Linked DNA regions of Homo sapiens: region 1 is linked to region 2. Evidence: fine-mapped expression QTL. A gene starts in region 2. The other region holds a variant in brackets. All regions are shown on one strand. Distances are between the middles of the regions.

Region 1 (5,375 bases), 36 kb after region 2:
ATCTTAACAGCCAGGACTATAGCCCTATATCAATTAAGCTAAAGTATTGTCACAGCAAAACATTGCTTATACTCCATAAATTGTCCAAATGGAAACTGCATGGAAGGGTTTCTAGCTTGTCCCCTTGAGCCCCCAGTGTTCCCCGCTATGCTGATTTACCCGCTGTCTTCCAAGGCCCTGCTCCTTTTGCAACCTATAGTGCCCCCAGTCATTGTGTGGAACCTGTAAAAAGATCAGGAAGTCTTTTCGGGCTGCAGGGTGGTTGCTCCCATGCTCTAGCTTAATTTCACTGGGGGAGGGATAACCCAGGAAGTCCTTGAATGTGAAGGTAATGAGTGCAAATGTTTGTGAGACCTCAAACATTTTCTTTCCTTCCTACGGGGCGGGCTCTGCCTGTCTATATGTGTATGTCAGGGGCTCCTGAATTCCAGCTTCTGCTCCTGCTCTGCACTGCACCTGCCATGCACAGATTCTCCTCAATGCCACAGCCACCAAACTGCTACTGTGCCCTTGCTGCCCCACCCTTTGCATGCCCACAAAGCCCTCTCTGGGGAAGCGGGTCCCTCATCCCCATGGCCGCCCTGGGGCTATTGATCTGGCACATGCTGGGAGATGTGGGGGAAACCAGATGGAGACAGGACAAGGCGCTCTCACAAGAGTTCTGGGCTGCAGTGGAGATGGCAGGTTTTACTGCCTAGAAAATTATATAACTTTTAAATGCCTGACCACCCACCCTTCGCTCTGGGAGAAGGAATGAGCTGGACAGAACAGTCCATTACATAAAGGCAATGAGGCCTTTTGAGGAAATGACATGGTCTCCATCTTCTCTGACTCCTGATTTTTCTTTATTCTCTCTCCTCACCCCTGTCCCCTACGCTCCTCTGGGTGACCGTCTTGGGTCACTTGCCTTCCTTTCCACTTCTTCCCTTTGGCTTGCCCCATAGCTGGTACGTGACAATGCAGATCTGCGTTGTGAGCTTCCTAAATTGGAAAAACGACTTAGGGCTACGGCTGAGAGAGTTAAGGCCCTGGAGGGTGCACTGAAGGAGGCCAAGGAGGGCGCCATGAAGGACAAGCGCCGGTACCAGCAGGAGGTGGACCGCATCAAGGAGGCCGTTCGCTACAAGAGCTCGGGCAAACGGGGCCATTCTGCCCAGATTGGTGAGTAGGTGTTAGCAGGCAAGGTGGGAGTATCTCCTGAAGCAAATTTAGCAAATTGCTAATTGCCAAGCAACTAGATTATTGCTTCTTACCTACCCCTAGCCTCATCCCACTTCCCCCCAAAAAGTAAAAAAGTGATTATGTTACAAGCAACTCAGTTCAACCCCAGCTAAATGACCTCAGGGACCAGGGCAAATGCAGGGTCATAGCCTCCTCATGGTTGTTTTCTTTCTTTATTGCAGCCAAACCCGTCCGGCCTGGCCACTACCCAGCATCCTCACCCACCAACCCCTATGGCACCCGGAGCCCTGAGTGCATCAGTTACACCAACAGCCTCTTCCAGAACTACCAGAATCTCTACCTGCAGGCCACACCCAGCTCCACCTCAGATATGTAGTGAGTGACCACACGTGTGGGTTGGAGTCCCACCCAAAGCTCCCTGGACCCTAGAAGGCATAGGGTGGGGGCAGTTATTGGTTGTGGCTTAATTATTTTCCTAAACCCTTTCTCAACTTCATGCCTATGATTAGAAGGTAGGTGTCTGCCCTCCCAGCCTGTGGCCATGTTTGTTTTCCTCTGCTCTCTGGGGATGGGGAGGGCTGAGCAGCTCTATCACTGAGGATGAGTGTGGATTAGTGGTCCTCAGACTAGTGGAGGGTGGGTGTCAGAGGCTGCCTCTTTCCTCTGCTCCATCCAGCTTTGCAAACTCCTGTACCAGCAGTGGAGCCACATCTTCTGGCGGCCCCTTGGCTTCCTACCAGAAGGCCAACATGGACAATGGTGAGTGAAAAAGATGGGTAATCCCACCTTTGGGGTCCTCAGGGCAAGTTGAGAGGCATAAAAGTAAGTGACCTTAGTGTACAAAAAACACTGACTGAACCTTTCTGGTGTGCCAAGGCTTCAAATAAAAAAAAAAATACATATAGCCAGGTGTGGTGGCATGCACCTGTAGTCCTAGCTACTTGGGAGGTTGAGATAGGAGGATTGCTTGAGCTCAGGAGCTTAAGGCTGAAGTGCACTGTGAATACACCTGTGAATAGCCACTGCACTCAGCCTGGGCAGCATAGTAAAGCCCCATCTCTAAAATAATAATAATAACACATATGAAGAAAAAAGTGACCCTGTACCTACAGCCTGAGCACTGCCCAGCCCTTTAGGTCTCAGGCTGCCTGGGAGTGGATTCCTCCTATTACCACGCCAATCCCAGCCCTTGCCTTCCAGTTCCCTTTTCCTCTCCTTGGTGAGGGGCTGCAGAAACTTTTTCTCGAACAAAATAATGATGTAGCTTGGGATAACTAAGGAGAAAGTGTCACAGCTTATCTTTTTCTCTAAGGGATTAAGATGGGAGAGGGTTTGCGCAAACTGTTTCTAACACCCAATCTCCTTTTTTCTTCTTCTAATCCTGTGTTCTCAATGATGATCTCTTCAGGAAATGCCACAGATATCAATGACAATAGGTACAACAGTCCCCACTACCCCTGGGTTCTCTGGGTGGGACCAGAAGAAATGATTAAATTTCCCTTGTGCCCCACTTGGAGGTTCCTGGAGCCTTTGGGGAAGGGGGAGGGAGTGAGACTCATTCTTTTCATCACTGTGTTGTCCAGGAGATCCAGTCATTCCCCTGCCTCAGTGCAGAATATCTCCCCTCCTCCAATCCCATCTGTGGCTTCTCCCTATTCCAGTGATAAGGTCTGGACGAAAACAACGTGGGCATCTGACGACTGGGTTTCTCTCCTACCTTTGGAAGCCTTGTGACATTGGACAAGTCATTTACATCCCTCTGGCCTTGAGTTTCCCTGTATTCCTGTAAAACACAAATAGTCCCTGCCGTTTGTGATCTCACAGGGACACTCTCAGAGCAGAGTAACCATGA[T/C]GACAGGAATACTTTAATTTCTATGGAGCTGATCATGGTGGGTCTCTTCCTCCAGGAGTGACCTGCCGTGTGGCTATGAGGCTGAGGACCAGGCCAAGCTTTTCCCTCTCCACCAAGAGACAGCAGCCAGCTAATCTCCCACACCCACGGCTGCATACCTGCACTTTCAGGTAGCGTCAGGCTGCTTCCTCGGACCAGCCTCAGGTTGCTTCCCTTCTTGCTGACAGCCTCTTTGGTTTTCCTGCTGCTGCTTCTTTTTTTTTTTATCACCTCAAAACTTTAATTATGTAGTTACCCCTCAACTCCTGCTTTCCCCTGTTGGGGGCTACACCTGTGCTGCCCCATGTAATCTGGACGTTGACCTCCCGTGCCCCCTTTTGCTTTCCGTTAGGCTACAGTGGTAACCACAGTACTGTCTTTTTGCCACTAGGGGTCACTGTCACATGTCCAAAGAAGTGAGCTTGGCCGCTGTAGATTAGAACCACAGGGGTGGTAGACTGCAGATCTATCAGGAGACCCTAGGGGGCCATCTCAACCCCACCTCTTCCTCCACCCTGAAATAATTTTGGATGGATAGGTGTTTTTGGAACTAAGACATCTCCAGTTAAGGCGATGTTTGCTTCACGCCTGCACCTGTGTCCCATCCTCTTCCCATCTGTATATGCCACCAGTAAGCTTTAGGAAACGCCCCACGAAATCAGTCAGCGCTCCCCTCCCATCTTGCTCAGTGGAGGTGGCAAAGCCCCTCTTTTTCCTCCTCTGTCCCCAGGTGCTCTCCTCTAGCAGCACAGGAACCTTCTTTGTTCTTGTGTGTCACTGGGTTTCTCACCAAGGTTGCTTTAGGGCCCAGAAGTGGCACAGAGAACATGGCCAGTCTCTTACTGGGCTGCATCTAAGCTGAGCCCTCTCCAGGGGTTTCCCAGAATAGTAAACCAGGCACACACAGGCAGAAAAGTCTGAGAAGCAGAGAAGTAGGAATGCAGAAGAGGAGTTGGGGAGACCTAGGGGTGGAGGTGCAAGCCTGGGTCACGGGGGGCGGTGGTAGGGGGGTCTGCTTGTTGGTATTAAAGGAACAGGACAGTAAACCAAAGTGTGTGCAGATGCCACCTGTTCCTGTTCTGTGACTGAGCTACAAGCTGGGCCCTCACACCCTCTTTCTCTTTCTTTCCCAGTTTCTAAGAGGGACTGAGGCCTCTTCTCAGCATGCTGCAAACCTGTGGTCTCTGATACTAACTCCCTCCCCAACCCCTGTTGTTGGACTGTACTATGTTTGATGTCTTCTCTTACTTACTCTGTATCTCTTTGTACTCTGTATCTATATATCAAAAGCTGCTGCTATGTCTCTCTTCTGTCTTATTCTCAAGTATCTACTGATGTATTTAGCAATTTCAAAGCATAGTCTACCTTCCTTATTTGGGGCAATAGGGAGGAGGGTGAATGTTTCTTCTTTCTCATCTACTCGTCTCACACTGAGTGGTGTTAGTCACTGAGTAGAGGTCACAGAGATGACAAAAGGAAAAATGGGAGCTAGAGGGTTGTGACCCTTCATACACACACGCACGCACGCACACAAACATGCACACACGCATGCACACACACAAAGCCTTAAGCAGAAGAATGTCTTAGCATCATGAGACAGAGAAATAGACTCTTCCTCCCTCCTCTTTCACATATAGCACAGGGGAAGGTAAAATGGAAGGGCTGCTAATTGAGACATATAATTTTCTTCATACACCCCTCACCTTAATCAAAGGATTCAGGTGTTACTTCTGCCCTACAAAGTCTGCCTTTTGCCTCCCTCTTCCTGTTTTCCCCTGGACTGAGAAATGGGTTGCTCAAGGGACCATTTCCCTTTTTCTTCAAGCTCCTTTTGATATTCCCTGCCCCAGAGCTCATGACCAGAACCCAGAGCTGATTTAAAATATTTTGAAAAATGGAGGAGGCAGACTGCTCCCAGCAGCCTGTCAATGGCTGCTCATCTGTCCATGGAGATGGTTACAGGCAGGTGTAGTCAAAATGATTGATTCCTTGGGTTTGGGGGTGAATAGGCTGGGAAATTTCTGAGCCTTTTTTTTTTGTCACAGTGCCCTCAAGTTGAAGTGATGAGCTGGATTTCTTTCTTGTTCCATACTGGGCGGCATGCTCCTCCCATCTCCACCCCTTGGTTTGGGGGCTTCCAGCTCATTGGCAAAATCTCTCTAGTTGCCTTCCTTTCAAGCTGGAGCCTGACTTTTCCCCAATGTACATTTTTTTTTTCTCCACAAAGAGTTCCTTCTCTAATGTCCCCATCTGGTATTAAGTGCACTTTAAAGAAAGGGGCAGGGTGGATTTTCAAGAGGTG
Region 2 (5,375 bases):
GGCTGTTCAGGCTCTGGGGGAGAAACAGCCAATCAGAGCTGCACAGTCAGGTTCTTCCACACCTGGAATGGGTGTCATCTCCTTTTTATTAAGAGATATCCCAGTATCTTCAAAAGGGAATGACAATATGTATTTTTTTGTTTAGAAAGAGGATTACTGTGAAACTACCTGTTTGTATCACAGCGACAAAAGGACTGAGTTCTATTCATTATCTCACCATGAAGGGCAGAAGCCTAGGCCTAAGTTGAACAGTCTGAACTGTGGTAGTGCAGTAAAGTTCTCAGCATACAGCTGTCTCTTGGCAACTGTGGGAGACTGGTTCCAGGACCTCCCTTGATACCAAAATCTGCATATGTTCCCATCTTCTATATAAATTGGCATAGTAACTGCATATAACCTACCTACACCCTCCTGTATACTTTGAATCATCTCTAGATTACTTAAAATACCTAGTACAATGTAAATGCTATGTAAATAGTTGTTATATTGTATTTTTAAATTTTGTTTTTTTTTTTATTGTTGTACTGGTTTTTTTTTTTTTGAGATGGAGTCTTGCTCTGTCACCCAGGCTGGGGTGCAGTGGCGCAATCTCGGCTCACTGCAACCTCCACCTCCCAGGTTCAAGCAATTCTCCTGCCTCAGCCTCCACAGTAGCTGGGACTATAAGCGCTCGCCACCACGCCTTGCTAATTTTTATATTTTTTAGTAGAGACGGGGTCTCAAACTCCTGGCCTCAAATGATCCACCTGCCTCAGCCTCCCAAAGTGCTGGGATTACAGGCATGAATCACCACACTGGGCCTATTTTTTATTTTTAAAAAATATTTTCCATTTGTGATTGGTTGAATCCATGGGTTTGGAACCCATAAATACAGAGAACCGATTGTATACACTCCTATTCTGTGAGGACAGAGGCAGCTTCCTATAAGATGCCTCTTGGAGTGACAGGTGCACACCCAGGTCCTTGAGCAACAACATCATCTGCATTATCTCCAAGATACTCAAGCTTAGGGGATAGATTGGCATGCCAGCAAATACAGAAGCCACAAGGAACACACCACTGGGAGAAGGGACAGAGAAGGTGTTTCCCACAATGTAAGAACCACTTCCACATGGGGGAGTCAAATAAGAAATAAGTGAGTACGCCAAGCCACACATTGTAAGCCAGCAGTCAGCATTCCCCAGAATTAACCAGCCCCACAGACATAGCCACAGGACTTACAGACAAGCATACTGAGCCTGCATATTGCAATGACTCTTGGACACATCTTTACTGAGAACTCACATCATCAATGTGATCCCAGCCCAGCTGTCTTCAGAAATAATAGAACCTAAAACACATCCTATAAACACACCTCTTGGCACTTAAACAGAGTTTTTACTATGTTGATTTCCATTCACTCAATTTTTTTTTCCTTCTATATGTTTCCTATATGTATCCTAATTCCCCATTAGTCTGGGGCTCATTGGGGGCAGAGACATTTCTTCCTCTGCATTGCACAAAAAAAACCACAGAATGAACACACTCAATAAACCATACTAAATGTTTCCCCTCACAGTTAAAATGTATCCGTACCTAATTACTCCATCCTCAGAATTCTCGGATCTAAAAATGCAACCACAGTCTCACATCCGCTGATGTGAAATATTTACATTCTTCCTCAAATTTGTTTTGCTCTAAAATCTTGGAATCACTTTCTTAATTCCTTGCCCAATGGATACTGGATATTCATATGGAAAAAGTATTTCTCCATATTTCAAAGTCTAGTTCTTGGTAGCAGTTTATTACAAGTGCCCAGGCTTCATGATTCATTTCCATGGGTTAGAACCCAGGGGCCTAAGTCACTAGCTCCAAACCTGTTTTGAGATATTTCAATTTTATTTAAAAGGCCCAAGAATCAGGGCTTTGCAAACAGATGTTGTTAGCTGTAATTCCGCTGACTTGACTCTCCCTCCTGCCATTGCTCATTGGTGGCTGCAAGCCCAGCAAGGTCTTTGCAAGCCCTGCAACCTATATACCACCCAGGCTGGGGTTGGCATACCCGCTTATTGCTGTAGCTCCCCCGAGAAAGGGAAGGACCTGTCTAGGGGAGAAAGGTCAGAGTCCGGAGGAGTCTGTGGCAGCACACATTCTTACCGCATCGAACTCCGCTTGATCATCCTCAGGTAGGTCGCTAGTTTCATAAACATCTGGCTCATTCCTGGCCTGCAGGTAGAAGCAGTGACCACCCAACCTCACTACCCAGCATCCAACAACACCCCTTCCCCCACTCCATTTGAATAAGCTAACAGAGAAGGCGGGGTGTGATGTCAGGGTTCTGTCCTTTCTCCTCCACCTGCCCCGTGAGTCAACAGTATGTCAGTTCCCATGTCTCAAGGGGTAGGGATGACAGCGGAAACAATTGGGACCTGACAGTAAACGGTGAGTGTAAGTGATAGCAACGATGTTACCCTAAATCTAGAGGCGGGCAGGTCCTTGGCAATCACTATTGCCAAAGAAGGTGAAGGCTATCCTCCAATTAGGCCCCGTACACCACCACCCTGGCACAAGGATTGAGAGTGACTCAGGACCTTAGTACTCAAGGTCCTGTGTCCCAACCCTCACCTTGAGAAGCAGGCAGGGCAGCACAAAAGGAAGGTACACGCCAGGATTGTCATGGGAGTGGGGGCTGGGGGAGGGCATAGGTTCCCTCAAGGATAGAGCTCCCCATCTGGCACAAGAGGGTTCTGCCAGATGGCAGAACCTCTTCCTTGGCAGGATGAAGGCCATCGTTAAGTGGTCTGGTGTGTGTGTCTGGGGTAGCGATGGGGTCTTATGGAGAGATTTGGGGGGGACATGGGAGGCGTTGACACGGATGGTGGAAAAACTCAGGCACAAGAGGTCAGTACCCGGAGTCGATTTCTGGGCCGAGCTACCGGCGACTGCCGGAAAGGGGGCCTGGTGCGCCGTCCGGCGGCCCGGCCCAGTCGGGTCAGAAGAGTTCGGGGGGTGCTGAGGCCGATCGGAGAACGAGCGGCGGGAGCCCTTGGGCGGAGGATGGGCTGCAGGCGGGAGGGGTCGCGGGCTGGTTTCTGCTGGGGGTCCTTGGGAGGTCGGGGGCGCGGTCCTGGGGAGCCGGGGCCGGTCCTGTACTCACAATGCCGGGAAGGTCGGCGTATTTAGGGTCCGCCATGGCGGCGGCGAGACGGGCTGGGGGACCCGGGCCTCGGTGGAGCCGGGGCCGGTGTTCGGGTAGGGGAGAGGCTGGGTTCGGGTCCCGGGCTAAGGCGGCGGCAAAGGGAGCGGCAGATGAGCAGGAAGTCTCGCGACAGCAGTAGCACAGCAGAAGGGTAAAGCAAAAGTCGCGAGAACAGCCCTGCTGCCACACCCCTGGAGAGGCCGGGATTGGGGAGAACGAGGCCAGGGAATGAGGTAATGGCCAGGGGACGCCGCCTAGGATTGTGGGATGTGTAGTTTTGGTGTACTGGAGCTTGGGCGGGGAGCGACAATAACGAACCTTGGGGAGCTATTTCATACAGCCTTTTCTCTCACTTTTACAGCAAGTCAGTGAAAGAACATTTATAATTCCTGTTTGGGGCTCCCAGGAATAAAATGACTAGATTAAATGATACAGGTAGTCATACTGTGACACAGCCGGGGTTTCAAAAACAAGAAGTTTGCTTGATACTGTGTATTATAAAAACAAAATAAAAACAAGAAGTAAAATTTAGTAAACGCGTAGTGTATGTTAGGAATGAAAAAGTTAGGCAATCTTCTCAAGTAAGGGCTTTCAGATAATTTGAATTTCAGATAATAAGTAGGTGTGTGTGTGTGGTGTGTGGTGTGTGGGTATACTAACCCCCCAAAAATTAAGTATCTGAAATTCACATTTAACTGGGCATCCTGTTTTTGTTTTTTGTTTTTCAAATCTGGCAATTCTATCTGAAGTTCATAAGTAGGTAAGTGGTGTCTCCATGTCTGTCTGAACACTCTCTGGGCTCTTAACTACTTCGTTAATAGTTCTCAGACTTTTATTTATTTTTCAATTTTTTCAATTTTGTGGGTACACAGTAGGTGTATGTATTTATGGGACACATGAGATATTTTGATACAGGCATGCAATGTGAAATAAGCACATCATGGAGAAGAGGGTATCCATCCTCTCAAGCATTTATCCTTTAAGTTACAAATAATCCAATTACTCTTTAAGTTATTTTAAAATGTACAGTTGAGTTATTCTTGACTATAGTCACCCTATTGTGCCATCAAATAGTAGGTCTTATTATACTTTCTAATTTTTTGTACCTATTCACCAACCTTACCTTCCGTTCTCAGACTTTTAAATTTCATCGTTCAATAAAATTAAAACAACTACAAACCTTGAAGATTTGCCTTTTTATTTTATCAAGTAAGTATATTACAAATAGAAAACCTATTATTTACTGTCACCATCATTACTTGGTAGAAAAGCAAGAAGGACACACTCAGAATAAAAGATAGTCCTTTGAAACTTATCAAATCCATCTTTATATTAAAAAAAAACTCACCATTGTTCTTTTGGAGGTGAGGGCATACTCAGTGAACTTTTGTCTCTGACCAGTGACCCTCCATGGACTGGCATTTTGAAACCCCTTTACTAAAGATGCCACCTTGGAGCCCCTGGGGACCCAAGGATGGGATGTTTCCCAGGATGTTTCCTGAGCTTGCAGGATGCTGCAACACTTAGAAATTGTGCCAAACCAAGTGACTAGAGAGTTCCTGAGTTCGGAACTCGTTGTCTTTCTTTCTCCTGGCTCCTCCCCAAGCCTCTATCCCTTTCTCCATAGTCCTACAGCTTTCCTGTCCCATTCCTTATGTTGGACTCTTTTCTTTCAGTTCCCTTAAGATTCAAGGTAGGTTAGAGGTGTAGCCCCAATGTGGGAAACCCCCTGAGTTCTGAATAGTTAGGTCTTGTCTGGCCAGGCTATCAGCCTCTTACTTTTGTCCCATAGTGTCTTAAGTGACCTTAACCACTCACCAGACAGTTGCTGAGCAGAACTTTCCTTTCCTCCTCCTTCTCCCATCCACCCTGCCCTTCCTCTTTGCCTAGAACCTCAACTCCTGCAGTCCAACTCTCTGTTGGCCAGCAGAGGCCTGTGACATGGAGAAAAATCAATTTGGCCAGCTTCTTGGTGGTTCTTTCCAGGGGCTGCAGCAGGAGTCTGACCCAAAGGAAGGAAGGACAAGGAATCTCTGGGCTTGGCATTTCTTTCGTTTTTCTTCCCCCACACCTTTTTTTTTTTGGCCAGGGAAGGGGGCTGAAGTATTGGGACTCTATCCTCCAATGGTTACTGAGACAGAAAACACACACTCCCGTAGGTATCTGAATTTGCCTGAAACCCAAATGCCGGCTTTGC

What was found. PIP is the estimated chance that this variant, and not a neighbour inherited with it, causes the effect.
Region 1: its variant is fine-mapped to the expression of DCTN2 in whole blood (INTERVAL, PIP 0.95).

Annotation. Positions count from the first base shown.
Region 1 is chr12:57,580,012-57,585,386 of GRCh38, forward strand. It overlaps KIF5A (kinesin family member 5A), which reads left to right. Exons shown (of 29, transcript NM_004984.4): 24 at 945-1,161; 25 at 1,404-1,557; 26 at 1,859-1,941; 27 at 2,591-2,618; 28 at 3,090-3,204; 29 at 4,207-5,375. The coding sequence ends at 3,168. Among named protein-coding and RNA genes, the nearest start is that of PIP4K2C, 8.5 kb to the right of the region's middle. The variant T/C (reference allele first, on the strand shown) is at 3,035.
Region 2 is chr12:57,543,892-57,549,266 of GRCh38, forward strand. It overlaps DCTN2 (dynactin subunit 2), which reads right to left and starts at 3,301. Exons shown (of 14, transcript NM_001261413.2): 1 at 3,137-3,301; 2 at 2,137-2,205. The coding sequence starts at 3,172. RefSeq lists an enhancer at 3,430-3,569.